Homo sapiens: one gene and its partners. The protein of the gene in region 1 interacts with the protein of each later gene in a biochemical or structural test. Each region holds a gene or a part of one and is shown on either strand. Other genes may lie near its edges.

What was found. The genes of interacting proteins can lie anywhere in the genome.
Region 2: of the proteins of RNF168 (region 1) and DHX9, one has a biochemical effect on the other in vitro, tested with the Homo sapiens proteins (one study listed by BioGRID).
Region 3: of the proteins of RNF168 (region 1) and KDM4A, one has a biochemical effect on the other in vitro, tested with the Homo sapiens proteins (one study listed by BioGRID).
Region 4: the proteins of RNF168 (region 1) and JMJD1C form a complex in vitro, tested with the Homo sapiens proteins (one study listed by BioGRID).

Annotation. Positions count from the first base shown.
Region 1 is NC_000003.12:196,479,523-196,483,499, reverse strand, and holds part of RNF168 (E3 ubiquitin-protein ligase RNF168), read left to right. Parts: intron 1-3,977. UniProt on the Homo sapiens protein: E3 ubiquitin-protein ligase required for accumulation of repair proteins to sites of DNA damage. Acts with UBE2N/UBC13 to amplify the RNF8-dependent histone ubiquitination.
Region 2 is NC_000001.11:182,845,420-182,849,396, reverse strand, and holds part of DHX9 (ATP-dependent RNA helicase A), read right to left. Parts: intron 1-3,977. UniProt on the Homo sapiens protein: Multifunctional ATP-dependent nucleic acid helicase that unwinds DNA and RNA in a 3' to 5' direction and that plays important roles in many processes, such as DNA replication, transcriptional activation, post-transcriptional RNA regulation, mRNA translation and RNA-mediated gene silencing.
Region 3 is NC_000001.11:43,691,222-43,695,198, forward strand, and holds part of KDM4A (lysine-specific demethylase 4A), read left to right. Parts: intron 1-274; coding exon 275-351; intron 352-1,034; coding exon 1,035-1,090; intron 1,091-2,772; coding exon 2,773-2,881; intron 2,882-3,487; coding exon 3,488-3,673; intron 3,674-3,977. UniProt on the Homo sapiens protein: Histone demethylase that specifically demethylates 'Lys-9' and 'Lys-36' residues of histone H3, thereby playing a central role in histone code. Does not demethylate histone H3 'Lys-4', H3 'Lys-27' nor H4 'Lys-20'.
Region 4 is NC_000010.11:63,207,428-63,211,404, reverse strand, and holds part of JMJD1C (probable JmjC domain-containing histone demethylation protein 2C), read left to right. Parts: intron 1-2,169; coding exon 2,170-2,342; intron 2,343-2,603; coding exon 2,604-3,977. UniProt on the Homo sapiens protein: Probable histone demethylase that specifically demethylates 'Lys-9' of histone H3, thereby playing a central role in histone code. Demethylation of Lys residue generates formaldehyde and succinate.

The DNA.
Region 1 (3,977 bases):
CTTGGTTTAAATTCAGATGAAAAAAATGGGTCCCAGATAGGCTTATCTTCACTGAAAGAGTTTACAATTTGTCATTTCTTCTCTATTACACAAAATGCATGAGTCAGGTAGACAAAGGTGGCGTGATTGAGTTTCACCACAACACCCCTCCAGGGTCAGGTGCCAGGTGGAGTTGGTGGCTTTACGCAAACATCAGCTTTCCCATGGTAACTCACAGTTGGAAAAGTTTAAAAACCACAGTCTAGACTTGAAAAATACATAAGGACTTCTGGTTCAACTGAGGAAATATGTGCAGGTAACTCATCTCCTTCCAAGATTTGTTGAAATTTTGTATTTGAGGTGGGAGGAAGCTTAGGAGAAGAGAATGTTAAATGAGGGAGGTACTATTAAAAAAAAAAAAAGATGTGACAATATCAGTGTCGCCAGTACTCATAATGTGCAAAGTAAAAATGAGAAAACCGCTAAAATGCAGAAGTATTTCATATTGATACAATATGCTGTTTAAGGCTATAACTCATGAATCTTTATATATCTAAATATATACTTTGAAATACATAAAAATAAAAAATTACCAGAGATACAAGAAAAACTAAGGATTTAAAAGCAAAAATTGAGAAACTGATGGATTAAAGTTGTAACAATATTAAAAACAGATAAAGTCTGTTTTCTAGAATATATGAAAACTCTTATAACTCAACAACAGAAGACAAATAATTAAAAACTGGACAAAGGGACTTGAGTAGACATTTTTCCCATGATGTACAAGTGGCCAATAAGTACACGAAAATATGTTTAACATCATTAGTTATTAGGGAAATGCATATCAAAACCACAGTGATATAGCATTTCATACCCATTAGGATGGCTATAATCCACAAAAAGGGAAAATAATAAGTGTTGACAAAGATGTGGAGAAATTGGAATCCTTGCGCATTGCTTGGTAGGAATGTAAAGTGGTATCGTGGCTGCAGAAAACAGTTGGTGATTCCTTGAAAAGTTAAACGGAATTAGCATATGACCCAGCAATTCCACTCCTAGGTATGTACCCAAAAGAATTGAAAGCAGGTATTCAAACAAATACTTGTACATGAATATTTGTGTCAACATTATTCAAATAACCGAAAGGTAGAAACAACCCAAATGTCCATTAACAAATGAATGGGTAAACAAAATGTGGCATTCCATTTTATGTGAATTACACCTCAATTCAAAAGTTTAAAAATGAATAACAGGATTATATAGTTTTAAAATTAAGAAAAATTTCTAAACAACTTGTTGATTAAAGAGTAAATTTTGTTGGAAATACAGAACTGAAAATATGCATGAAAACTGGTATGTGGCTAAAGTGGTATTTAGAAGGCTTTACGTGCCGTATCAGAAAAGAAGAAAGGGCAGCCAGGTGTTGTGGCACGTACCTGTAATCCCAGCTACATGGGAGGCTGAGGCAGGAGGATTGCTTAAGCCCAGGGAGTTTGAGTTTGGGACCAGCTTGGACAGCATAGCAAGATCCTGTCTCTAAAAAAAAAAAAAAAAAAAAGCCAGGGACAGTGGCTCATGCCTATAATCCCAGCACTTTGGGAGGCTGAGGTCTGAGGTGGTAGGATTGCTTGAGGCCAGGAGGAGTTCAAGACCAGCCTGGGCAACATAGTAAGACCCTGTCTCTACACAAAATAAAAAAATTAGCCAAATGCAGTGGCACATGCCTGTAACCCCAGCCACTTGGGAGGCTGAGGTGGGAGAATTGCTTGAGCCCAAGAGGTCGAAGCTGCAGTGAGCTATGATCATATCTCAAAAAAAAAAAAAAAAAAAAAAAAAAACGCAGCTGAAAACGTATTTAAAAAGACAATTCCAGGAATACATTGCTGGTTTAATGGTAGAAAATGAATCACTGTAAGTTATTCAATTAGCTGTATAAATATGAAATACACGAGATGATAATTCTTAATGAAGTGGTAACAGAAAGAAACTTTCTTAACCTGTTGAAGGATATCTACCAAAATCTTACATCACATATCATACTTCATAGTGGAACATCGAAATTATTTCCTTTTTTTTTTTTTCCAGACAGTCTTTCTTGCCCTGTCACCCAGGCTAGAGCGCAGTGGTGCGATCATGGCCCACTGCAACCTCAAACTCCTGGGTACAAGTGATCCTCCCGCCTGGGCCTCCCAAGGTGCCTGGATTACAGGAGTGAGCCGCCACGCCCCGCCATTCCCCTTGTAAGGTCAGGAATACGCAAGGGTGGCCTGCTACTCTCCACCTGCATTCAGACTCATGCTGGAGAGTTTAGTCTGCACAGTAACACAATAAAAGGAGATAAAACATATCAGCCTGGAAAGGAAGGAAAAAGCAGCTATCATTCTTCAGAGGCGGTATAATTATCTATGTAGAAAACCCAAAAAGTCAGAGGTACATTTTTAGAATGAAGAGTTTAGCAAGGTTGCCAGATATAAAATCTGTACAAAAAGTCAATTGTAAAATGTAACTTTAAAAATACTCTGTCGATAGTAGTATCAGAAAATAAAAGTACTTAAAAATAAATGTGTTAAAATCTGAGGCAAGCATGGTGGCTCATGCCTATAATCCCAGCACTTCGGGAGACTGAGGCGAGAGGATTGCTTGAGCCCAGGAGTTCAAGACGAGCCCGAGCTGCACAGGGAGACCCTATCTCTTAAAAAAAAATTAAAAAATTAACCAGGCATGATGATGCACACCTGTAGTCCCAGCTGCTCAGGTGGCTGAGGCAGGAGGATCACTTGAGCCTGGGAGGTTACGGCTGCAGTGAGCTGTGATTTTACCACTGCACTCCAGCCTGGGCAACAGACAAGACCATGTCTCAGAAAAATAAAAATCTGTACGACCCGTGGAGAAAATTGTATTATATTAAATATACAATATTCATGGGTTAGAAGATGCCTAATACTACAAAATGGTCAGATCTCCTCAGACTGATCTATAGAGTCAGTGCAATTCGAATCAGAATTCCAACTTTTCAAATTTTTCTTTTGAGACGGAGTCTCGCTCAGAATCACACAATACTAATCAATAAAGTGTTTAGAGATGCAAAAGTGTGGCAAATCTGTTTTAAAAAGTAAGATATAAGAAACTCAGGATAGTATGAGGTGGGAGATGACGAGGCCCCATAGGAGACTTTCAAACCAATGATTTCTTTTCCCTTCAACCAAGTAATAAGCATATGGGCTTTCATGGTAATACAGATTTTTAAACTTTTTAGAAGAATAACACATTTTTTTGTTTTGTTTTTAATGGACCACAGAGCAGCAAACATATATTTTAAAGTGCACCAGTCTTCGGCACCATAAGACAGGGTAAAAAAGAAAAAGTAAAAAATTTAAAAAGACGGTGCACCAATCCTAAGTATACTTTCTGGTGAATTTTTGTGTGTGTATAAACCACCCACCAGATGAAGACGGAATATTTACAAAGGTTTGCTTGTGCCCTTTCCCTTTCCAGTCAGTGTCCCCCTCCCCGTGACCGTGCTGTACTGTGATTCTTACATGTATTGTATGACTGTTCTCTCATAAACTTTGTTTTCATGAGGCAGACTTGGAAAGATCTTAAGACATTAGTGAAAAAAGCAAATCACAAGCCGGGCGCAGTAGCTTATGCGTGTAATCCTAGCACTTTGGGAGGGTGAGGCAGGCAGATCACTTGAGGTCAGGAGTTCAAAACCAGCCTGGCCAACATGGTGAAACCCCGTTTCTACTAAAAATACAAAAAAATTAGCCAGGCGTGGTGGCGGACGCCTGTAATCCCGCTACTGGGGAGGCTGAGCCAGGAGAATTGCTTGAACCTGGGAGGCGGAGGTTGCAGTGAGCCGAGGTCACACCACTGCACTCCAGCCTGGGCGATAGTCCGTCTCAAAAAAAAAAGCGTGAGGCTGGGTGTGTTGGCTCATACCTGCAATCCCAGCACTTTGGGAGGCCAAGGCAGGTGGATCACTTGAGCCTAGGAGT
Region 2 (3,977 bases), on another chromosome or scaffold:
TGTTTTAGTTAAAAACTGAAATATTAACAGATGAATAAGATGTCTGGGATGCTCCAAAATAATCTAAGAAAGGGGAGTAGTTAGAAATGAGTAAAATTGAAAGTGTTGCAGCCAGATGACGGAAACATGGAGTTTCACTATATTATTCTTTTATACACATCTACAATTGTCCACAGCAAAAAAAATTTTAAAATATCCTCTACATGCTCACTTTTGGCAAATGCAATTTATGGCATGAAAGGGTAAGTTCCAGATGAAATAAGTGATTATGAAAAAGGATTTCCCTAGAATGAGGAGGTAAGATAAAGATGGTAGCTGGTAACAGTTTGGTTACGTATCGCTGCCCAAATGTCATGTCAAATTTTAATCCTCAATGTTGGAGGTAGGGCCTGGTGAGAAGTAACTGGATCATGAGGTGGGTTTCTCATGCATGGTTTAGTACCACTTTCCTTGGTACTGCTATCCTAGCAACAGTGAGTGAGTTCTCATGAGATCTGGTCATTTAAAAGTGTGTGGCATCTTCCCCTTTACTTTCTCTTGCTCCTGCTATGTAGGACATCCCTGCTTCCCCTTCACCTTCTGCCATCATTCTAAGTTTACTGAGGCCTCTTCAGAAGTCAAGCAGATTCCAGTACCACACTTCCTGTAAAGCCTGCATAATTGTGAGCCAATTAAATCTCTTTTCTTTATAAATTATGCAGTCTCAGGTATTTTATAGCAATGCAAGAATGGACTAATAATACAGTGGGGTTAAAAGTAGAAATGGGTTGTTATAATTTTTTTTTCCAAATTCATCCATTCATTTACTCAGTCAACCAAAAAACATTTAAGTATCTGCTATAGACCAGGAACCATTCTAAATGTTGGAGACACAGCAACGAACTAAAAACAAAAAAATCCCTGCCCTCACGAACTTACATTCTAATACAATGAAACAAAAATAAATTACGTTGGAACAAGGTTTCTCATCTTGGTGACATTTTAGGCTGGTTAATTCTTTGTTGTAGGAGTTTGTCAAGTGCATTGTAGGTCATTAGCAGCATCCCTGGCCTTCACCTTCTAGATGTCAGTGGCCTCCTCGAGTTACAACAACAAAAATATCTCCATACATCCCCAAACATCCCTTGAGGGGACAAAATGGTCTCCAGTTGAGAAACACTGAGTTAAAAAGTAAGTGTTACGGAGAAAAATAAAGCATTGAAGGAGTTTAGGAAGTAACCTGAGGGTGACAATGTTTATAATGTTAAATAGGACAGCTGGGGAAGAGTCCTTCAGGTATAGAAGTTTTGAGGCAGAAAGATGAGGGCTTATTTGAAGACCTATGAAGAAGTACAGCTACTGTAGCTGGAACAGAGGAAATAAGGAAGAAAGTAGGAAATCCACAGAGCATTTAATAGGAAACACCTGAGCCATGTTAAAACAATAATAAAAAAATCACCTAGGGGATTACTTCTGGTTGTAGCCAAGTAAGTTCCTGTAAGACTGACCCTCCTGCAGGTAAAATAAACTTTAGGGGGAAAAAATACAAACACACACACAACACACCAGAACTATATGCAGGCAATAAAAAATGAACGAAAAAAGCAGGTAGATTCTTGAGAGAAGTTAAAATGGGGAAGCACGGAGTATCAAGGGTCTAATTCCAGTTTACTGTAGCTTTTAGCCTGAGAGAAGCCATCCCAGGCAGCTAAACCTCCAATGAAACCATCTTTTTGGCCTGAAGAATCAGAATTAGAGTTCAGGGAAAGCAAAGCTGCTAGAAAGTGAGGGAATGCTGGAAAGGAAACAGCCAGAGAGGAGGAGCCCCGAATTCTGTATATTGAAATCTCTGGCTAACCCTTGAAAACCACTCATGTACAGGGCAGATTCCAAGCTGCCCAGCAAAGGAGACCTGAAGGACTCTTCCATGGCTGTCCTAAATGATCAGAAAACTGAGGTGAGATCTGAGTTAACATCCAAAAGACAGCATTTGCAGTTTGAGTCCAGTTAAATTAAATGCCTGATTAAAAACAAAACAAAACAAAACAAAAAAACCAAATCAATGCTCTTTGGAGGAGTATAACATTATTCAGAGTCTCCACAGCATAATATTCCAATGCCCAGAATGCAATAAAAAATTATTTGATACACAAAGAGGAAAATGTGATCCAACCTCAAGAAAATATACCTATCAAGAGAATCCAACCCTGAGATGACTCAGATGTTAGTAGTAGTAGGCAAGGATTTTAAAGCAGCTATTAGAATTAAGCTTCATGACATAAAAGAAATCCATATTTATATTACAAACATACACTTATAACGAATGAAAAGAAATGCCACCAGAGAAAACATACAGAAAAGAATAAGCTGGAGATTTTAAAAGTGAAAAAGGTAGTGTCTGAAATACACTGGGTGGGCTTAGCAAAATGGAAGGGACAGAAAAAACTATCAAAGAATCTGAAGATAATCAATAAAAATTATTCAATTTGAGAAACAGTGGAAAAAATGATAGGAAAAAAAAAAGAGAGCCTCAGGGACCTGTGGGATATCAAGTCTTTATAAATATAAACACCAAGAGGAAAGAAGAAAAAATAAAACAAAAAATATCTTAAATAATAGCTAAGTCTCTCAAAGTTGGTGAAATACATAAATCTATGGATTCAATAATCTCAGCAAACCTTGAACAAGTTAGAACACACACATACAAAAAAACCCATGCCCGGTCACAACACAAAATACTAAAAACCAAAAATAACAGGAAAAGATCTTAAAAACACAGACTACCACATTACATATGGGAGAGAGTGATTTGATTATAGCTGACTTCTTACAGAAAACAGCAAGTAGACAGTGTCATATTATCTTTAAAGCCTATCTGGTCTCTGGCTGGACTCAGTGGCTCACGCCTGTAATCCCAGCACTTTGGGAGGCCAAGGCGGGCAGATAACCTGAGGTTGGGAGTTGGAGACCAGCCTGACCAACATGGAGAAACCCCGTCTCTACTAAAAATACAAAATTAGCCGGGCATGGCGGCACATGCCAGTAATCCCAGATACTCCTGCCTGAGGCAGGAGAATCGCTTGAACCCGGAGGCAAAGGTGGCGGTGAGCCGAGATCATGCCACTGCACTCCAGCCTGGGCAACAAAAGCGAAACTCCATCTCAAAAAAAAAAAAAAAAAGTACATCTGGTCTTCAATCCCATTTCCCTGGCATAGAAATCCTAAATCCTTATAATCTCCTAAGTGGAGACTTTCTGTATGCTAACGAGTTGACTGCTGGCTGGCAGGCCCTAGGTAGCTTCAGGTGTGGGGGGATGGTCACCAGAACCACCAAGGAAAGATTAGAGGGCTGAAACTTTCGGTCCCACCTCCCAGCCTCTGGGGAAGTGAGAAGGGCTGAAGGTCAAGTCACCAATGGCCAACGATTTAATCAATACTGAATAATGAAGTTTCCATAAAAACCAAAGGACAGGGTTTGGAGGGCTTCCAAATGGCCGAACAGGTGGAGGTTCCTGAAGAATGGTGTTCGAGGCAGGGCATGGGAGCTCCCTGCTGCCTCCGCCATATCTTGCCCTACTTATTTCACCAACTGTATTTTGTAGTATTCTTTATAATAAACTGGTAAATGTAGGTTTTCCTGAGTTCTGTGAGCCACACTAGCAAATTAACTGACCCCAAAGAGGCAGTCATGAAAACCATAACTTGAAGCTAGTCAGTCAGAAGTTCTAGAGGCCCAGACTTGCAAGTGGTGTCTGAAGGGGCTGGGGAGTCTTGTGGGACTGAGTCCTCACCCTGTGGAGTCTGACGCTATCTCCAGGTAGTGTCAGAGTTGAACTGGAGGATACCCTGCTAGTGACTGCTGCAGAACTGATTGCTTGCTTGGGGTGTGTGGAAAAAGTCCCCCACCTCCACCCCACATTTAGTCACAGAAATCTTCTTTGTTGATTGTTGTGGTATGAGAGAAGAGGAAAATTGTTTTTTTTTTTTTCCACTTACAT
Region 3 (3,977 bases), on another chromosome or scaffold:
ATCTCTTTGCCATCCTCTTGGTTGCAGATAGCAGAAAGGGATTAGTCCCTGCCACTTACTAGGTGTTTGTACCAGTGAATCTACAGTTTTTGACTTTTTGAGACTTTGAGCCATACTGTATGCCTGAGCCCTGGGGACTCAGACTAAAGAAAACTAAGGGGTTTCTGTGAGATTTGGTTGTAGCTTTGGGAGGTGGTATATGGAAAGGAATTGCAAATCTACCTTTTGACTCTGACCACTGGGTTTAATTTGCTCATCTTGGTGTCCCTGTTAGGTTGCTATGGGGTCCCCCCTGCAAAGGCTTCTGAAGACTGGATGTGTTCTCGGTGTTCAGCCAATGCCCTAGAGGAGGTGAGTGATCCCACACTGTTACTGTCTTCACCATGAGTCTTGGTGCATATTCAGGGCCAGACGATTTCATGTTGGACTCAGTATTCCCAGCAGTCTGCATAGGGTCTGGTACGCGGTGATGTCAGAGAGCGAGTATTGTGAGAGTAAATCCTATGACCGTGAGAATGGTTGCTGCCCACTTACGGAGTCTGGATGCTGTGTTTGCTCCATTGTGGAAAGACCAACTAGTGGTCTTCCTGTGGAGGAACAATAACTCCCTTAAAAGAATTTAGCCATTTTGAATTGGAGCCTCAGAAAGGGGCTCAGATGATTCATTGTGCTGTTTTCTCTTCACTGTACCCCCTGGAACCTGGCTGTACCTAGCCCATATAAGAAGCAGTCAGAGCCCTGTCATGCCTCTAGTTTGAGCAAAGTATCTTTTGTGACTTTGCTAAGAGTTGTTATTAGCAGCAACAATGAAGAGGATTATGTGAAGTCACGTGACTACTTGGCACACTTTAGCCCTGAGTGGCCTCTCCTTCTGACAGGGCGTCCTGGTGCAGGGGCTGCCTGGGTGAAGCCCCACATGCTATTATGCTTCTTTCTTATGTGGAGGAGTTGCCCAAAGCAGGTCCAGGGGAGAGCAGATTGAATGTTAATGACTTGGTATTAACCACTTTTTCCTCCCTCTCCTTTCTTGGCAGGACTGCTGTTTATGCTCATTACGAGGAGGGGCCCTGCAGAGAGCAAATGATGACAGGTAAGTTTCCTGAGCAGTGCCTTGGAATGCACAGGCTCAGTTCCGAAGCACACAGTGTCTTTGTGAGGGTACTAGCTGTTCTTCTGAATGACTGATGAGGATTTGGGAAGCACATCGTGTGGAGCAGGAATAGCATCTCCAAGACTCATTTTAAAAATGGAATGCTAAGGGAGCCAAGCAGTCCCAGACTTTCCAACTCCAGCTGCTCCTCTGCAGCAGAGATGTCAGTGACATCCTCCTTTGGAGAAGCTAAGAATGGACTCATGAGAATATGAAGACGAAGATGATGCGCAGGGACTGTGTGGGCTGGAGTGAGGACATTCACCTTGTCACAGCTGGGGCTGGTATGCAGAGGCGGCCACAGGCTAGCAAGCACTTCTCCACATGGCAAACTCCCTGGCTCAGACCTGCTGTTTGGAATGAGGCGAGTGTGCTCAAGGAGGACACTGAGGAGAGCTCAGACAGGCCCACCCACTATGGAACCGAATCTGCTGAATTTTCTGGGCTTCTCAGCTGTTGGGCAGCTCGTTTTCATGGAGTGAATCTTTGTGCTTAGGCTTGTGTTTGGTTGCTCTGAGGTGGAAACGTAAGATGAATGAGGTTTCTGACCTGGAAGAGCTAGCTGTCTAGGGCATGGTGCGTGCAGGTCAGTGCTGAGTATCCTGCTTCCAAGTAGAATCCCGTGGCAACTTGCAGCATATGTTCAGTCCAGCCGCCTGCCCTCAAGAGTCCCAGTTATGCTGTCCCTGAGAGATAGCTACTCTGCCTGCTGCTTCTGCTCCTTCAAAGGCACTTGCTGCCATTATTTGAGGTCACTGGGTTCCTCACAGTCACAGGATAGTGCTGGGAACATTCTTTCTTATTTGGAGTGGAAATGGCTGTGCTTGAATCTCTCACCTTTACCTCTGAATGCCTGTTCTGCCCTCCAGGGCCACACAGAACAAATCTGTTCCCACTCTAAAAAGACAGCCCCACTAGAACTGCAGAGAGCTTCCATGGAGCCCCAGTGTTGTCTGGTGTAGGTTTTCACGTAGCATGGTTTTAAGAGTTGTCACCATTTTCGTTCTTCTCCTCTTGATGCATGCTGGTTTCCCAAAATGTCCAAAACTTACTTTAATTCTTAAGGATGTCCGTTGAATAGACCTCTCAGAGTAAGTGGGGCTTGGGTCAGACCTTAAAGATTAAAGAGTGAGTCAGCTATGGAAAAAGGGAGCAGAAGGGAGAGGTCATTTCAGCCTGGGGGAGAGGTTTGGGCAGAGGCCGAGAGAGAGCTGTGATTACTGGCAGATTAGGGCACAGCCGGGGACGTTTTCAGGAAGCACTTGGGTCCTATGGTAAAGAGGTCTGCATAGAGCTTTCCAGTTTATTCTCACTCCCTGAGACCTGCCACACACCATTAGCCTGCAGCTCTGTTCATTTTTCAACAGAGTGGTGTAAGAAGCATGATCCGGTGCTAACCTAGGGCAGTGGGCAGTGGCCTAGGTGGGCAGTGGGGGTGGCACTGCTTCCACATACTCAGAGGAGAGACGGTTCTGGTTCTCACCTTCCTGGGTCCCAGGCATGTGCTGGTGGAAGTCAGTGGTCACCCAGGTGAGGGAGGAAGCGCTGTCAGCAGGCCCAAAAGAGAAGGCCACAGAGCCTTGGGCCCAGAGGTGACTGAGGGAGCCTTTGCCTTTTGGCAGGTGGGTCCACGTTTCATGTGCTGTGGCAATTCTGGAAGCAAGGTTTGTCAACATTGCAGAAAGAAGTCCGGTGGATGTGAGCAAAATCCCCCTGCCCCGCTTCAAACTGGTAAGGGCTTGTAGACTCTACATAATTTCCCGACTTACAAGTTTCTGGGTAGAAGAGAACAGGGACCTCCTGTACCCCTTGGTTTTGGTTAGAGTTTGTGATTCTCACTCTGTGGTTAGATTCCTTAGTGGAGGCCAGGTGTGGTGGCTCACACCTGTAATCCCAGCCCTTTGTGGGGCCGAGGTGGGTGAACCACTTGAGGTCAGGAGTTCAAGACCAGCCTGGGCAACATGGTGAAACCCCGACTCTACTAAAAATATAAAATTAGCTGGGAGTGGTGGTGCGCACCTATAATCCCAGCTCCTCGGGAATCTGAGGCAGGAGAATCACTTGAACCCGGGAGGCGGAGGTTGCAGTGAGCCGATATTGTGTCACTGCACTCCAGCCTGGGTGACAGAGCAAGACTCCGTCTCAAAAAAAAAAAAAAAAAAATTTCCTTGGCAGATAAAGTTGTAACCAGACCTGGATTAGAGCAGGCTGGTGTGTCCTTGTATTTTGGGAAGGGGCTGGCTCTTGCTTGCTTGGCTTTGCATTTGGGAGGGGAACAACAGAGGAAGCTGCAGTGCCAGTTCCTGCAATCACTGGTTTTCTTCCCCTGTGCTACAGAAATGTATCTTCTGTAAGAAGCGGAGGAAAAGAACTGCTGGCTGCTGTGTGCAGTGTTCTCACGGCCGCTGCCCAACTGCCTTCCATGTGAGCTGCGCCCAGGCTGCCGGTGTGATGATGCAGCCTGACGACTGGCCTTTTGTGGTCTTCATTACCTGCTTTCGGCACAAGATTCCTAATTTGGAGGTGAGAGAGGGTGTCATTCTAGAATCCTCTTGACAGTTTTCATGGTCATTTTCTCTGCATGTTTTCCATTTGTTGTATCAGCAACTATTTCCTCAAGCATTCTGCATTATGAAGAGTGCTAATGAGTTAAGAGATTGAGAGGTGGCCCCTGTCCATCTCCACTCCCTGCCTTGTACTCCATAAGCCAGTGACACCAAACTGCTTGTAGTTGATTCGTTTTGATTATCTCTTTACTTGTCTGCCTCTCCATCAGAATAAACTCCTTGAGGGTCCATATCTTATTAATGTGGTCATCCTTATTACT
Region 4 (3,977 bases), on another chromosome or scaffold:
AACCTCTGCCTCCCGGGTTCAAGTGATTGTCCTGCCTCAGCCTCCCAAGTAGCTAGGACTACAGGTGTGCAACACCACACCTGGCTAATTTTTTGTATTTTTAGTAGAAACGAGGTTTCACTATGCTGGCCAGGCTGGTCTCGAACTCCTGACCTCAAGTGATCCGCCTGTCTCGGCCTCTCAAAGTGCTGGGATTACAGGCATGAGCCACCATGCCCAACCATGTGATGGGTGAACTTTGATGATAAGAGGCACCAAGTGGTTGATGATGCATCTTGCATAAGGTCTACCAGTTTTGAAAGATGTTTCCTGTGGTTTATTCCTGTTGCAAACATGGACTCCTTTTGGCTCTACTTTCATATGACCTTTGGCCTTTAATGAAGTCTCACCAGTGATGCCCACAGTTGATTCTGCACCAGCATCACCACATTTGAGGTTGACAAGATCTCAGTTCCAGAATTATGCTGCCATTGATCACAAGCTTTCCATTACCATTTTGGAGGGTGCCGTTGCTTTTGTCGTAGATGGGAGTCATACTGGAACCTGTGTGTTACATAGTCAAACTCAGTGAAGAATCACTAATCACTATATTATCCTCTTTACCAGAATAGAAAGCAGGCCTGGTGACCCAAGTGCCCTACTGTACTCAGATTATTAATTCAAGGTTTCTATTTTTATTGTTGCACTCACATGTTTATTCTGACCCTTCACTCTCACGTCATTAATGTAGCTGCAGCTGCACAAAGATAAGCTAGCTAGAGGAACACAGGAGAGCCAAGAGCTGGCTAACAGATTTGTGTCTTTTTCCTTAACATCCAAACTCTTGAAAACAGATTTAAGTAACTTAAAAATGGCTTGGAAGGGAGCAATACTCAGTATGTGTCACATGTATATGGACTTAGACCATGACTGTCTAGCCTCTGTGTTTATAAGTACATAAAATATTTTATTAACTGGTCATAAATGTGTTAAACTAAAAACAAGTGTATCAGATTTTTATTTGTTATATAAAATTACAACATAAAGGAGTAAATTTGAATAACATTTTGAGGAAAAATAAAAATATCTTACCCCCTACTATTGACCAAAAGTGAAGAAACAATACAAGCATAAGACACTATTATTGAGAAATAATTTTGAATGGCATTTTATAGAGCAAAACTTTGTTGTCATTGCCATAATTGATTGCTGTTTAAGATTTCTGGATCTTATAGAACTGAGGCCGTTTGAGACACATATTTGATCCTTATGTGTATATTTATGTATTTTTCTCTTATGTGGGGTTTATGGCTATAGTGTATGTTTTTAATTTCATAGCAGTATATTTTTGGTGTGACATACTGCTTTTGCATTATTTTGAGAAGTAAAACGTATTCCCTTTGTTAGAGAAAATACAAAGGAGGTTGTATTTTCCTGCTATTTGACTATCATCCTATTAACAAATTCATAAAACATGTTCTGGAAGGATGTCAGTGAGTCAGAATATAGAAAAATCCTTAAGCATGTAGTCAGATAGCTGTATGTCTCGATGAAGAGGTTGCTGTCACCTTATATTCAGTCATGAGACAGGCAGCATATTGATGTATAAAATTAACTTTATTAGACTTCTACACCTCCAAGCTTAATGGTGCAACCTTGTTTATAGCTTAGAGTGAAATGGGGAGTGCATTTGGGTTTTGAAATGTAATTATCTGCCAATTGTCAGTAAATTGTTACATTGGAAAAGTTAAATTTTTTGATGACAAAAATTGACAAATGAATTTGGTTATAATTTCTATTTCTGATGAAATGTGTTTTAGGAATAATATTCTGTTTTTACTGTTAGCAATATACTTTTGCTGTTAGAATCAGGAAATCATATAAACTAGGTTCTGTATATGGCATTTATAGTAAATTTAAGGCACTGATTTCAAGATCTGTTTTTAGTAAGATGACAATAAATTATTTAATACTGATTATGATATGGAAAAATCTGTTTAATTATGTTATTATTTGTCTGAATATTTCTCATAAGATGTATTTAGAAAAAGTTACAAGTTTCCCAAAGAAACTGCTATTTGAATGAACTAATAAACCACCAAGATCATACCCAGTTCTACTGTGACACGGTGTTTAGCTTTTTCTAGTAACTGAAATCTAGGTGTTTTTTTTGTTTTGTTTTGTTAATAGAATTCTCCCAGTCCTTGGCTACATCAGCCCACCCCTGTGACCTCAGCAGATGGTATTGGATTACTTAGTCACATTCCTGTCAGACCTTCCAGTGCAGAGCCTCATCGGCCTCTTAAAATTACAGCCCATTCCAGTCCACCATTGACAAAAACTTTAGTAGATCATCATAAGGAGTAAGTTCACCAGTGCTTAAAAATTATAAATACCTTGTTCATAATTTTTCTTAATTTGCCTTTTAAATAGTTAATTTTAAGTTAACACATATCTTAAGATTAGGCTTTGTTCTGTTTTGATATTTCTTCAAATTTATTATAGTATTAGAGTACATGCAAAGATGTCTTTTACTTTCATAATAGAATGATATTGCATAGAAGCTGTCTTTGTATTTTGCAGGAAAAAGTGGTTACAGAAATATTTGTGTATTTTCTTTACAGAGAATTAGAAAGAAAAGCTTTTATGGAACCATTACGGTCTGTTGCATCCACATCAGCCAAAAATGACCTGGATCTAAATAGGTCACAGACTGGAAAAGATTGTCACTTACATAGGCATTTTGTGGATCCAGTATTAAATCAGTTACAGAGGCCACCCCAGGAGACTGGAGAGAGGTTAAACAAATACAAAGAGGAACACCGTCGAATTCTTCAAGAAAGTATTGATGTTGCTCCCTTTACAACTAAAATCAAGGGACTTGAGGGTGAGAGAGAGAATTATTCCAGAGTGGCATCATCATCTTCCAGTCCTAAAAGCCATATCATCAAACAAGATATGGATGTAGAACGCTCAGTATCAGATCTTTATAAAATGAAGCACTCAGTGCCTCAGAGTTTACCCCAAAGTAACTATTTCACTACATTGTCTAATAGTGTGGTCAATGAACCACCAAGATCATACCCATCCAAAGAAGTTTCAAATATTTACGGTGATAAACAGAGTAATGCCCTTGCAGCGGCAGCAGCTAATCCTCAAACTCTGACTTCATTTATAACATCTCTTTCAAAGCCTCCACCTTTGATTAAACACCAACCAGAAAGTGAAGGTTTAGTAGGCAAGATACCAGAACATCTTCCACATCAGATTGCATCTCACTCAGTAACAACCTTCAGAAATGATTGTAGGAGTCCTACCCATTTGACAGTTTCTTCTACAAATACACTCCGCAGTATGCCTGCATTACATAGAGCACCAGTATTTCACCCACCAATCCATCACAGCCTGGAAAGAAAGGAAGGCAGCTATAGTAGTCTTTCCCCTCCAACTTTAACTCCGGTGATGCCAGTAAATGCTGGTGGTAAAGTTCAAGAATCACAGAAGCCTCCAACTCTAATACCCGAACCAAAAGACTCCCAGGCAAATTTTAAGAGTTCTTCAGAACAGAGTTTGACGGAGATGTGGAGACCTAATAATAACCTCAGCAAAGAGAAAACTGAATGGCATGTGGAGAAAAGCAGCGGAAAGTTACAGGCTGCTATGGCATCTGTCATTGTGCGTCCATCTTCTAGTACAAAAACTGATAGTATGCCAGCAATGCAGTTAGCTTCTAAAGATCGTGTTAGTGAAAGATCTTCAGCTGGGGCACATAAAACAGATTGCCTCAAACTAGCAGAAGCCGGAGAAACTGGAAGAATCATTTTGCCAAATGTGAATTCAGACAGTGTTCACACAAAATCTGAAAAAAACTTTCAGGCTGTCTCACAGGGCAGTGTTCCCAGTTCAGTCATGTCTGCTGTAAATACGATGTGTAATACCAAAACGGATGTAATCACATCTGCTGCCGATACTACCAGTGTTTCCAGCTGGGGTGGTTC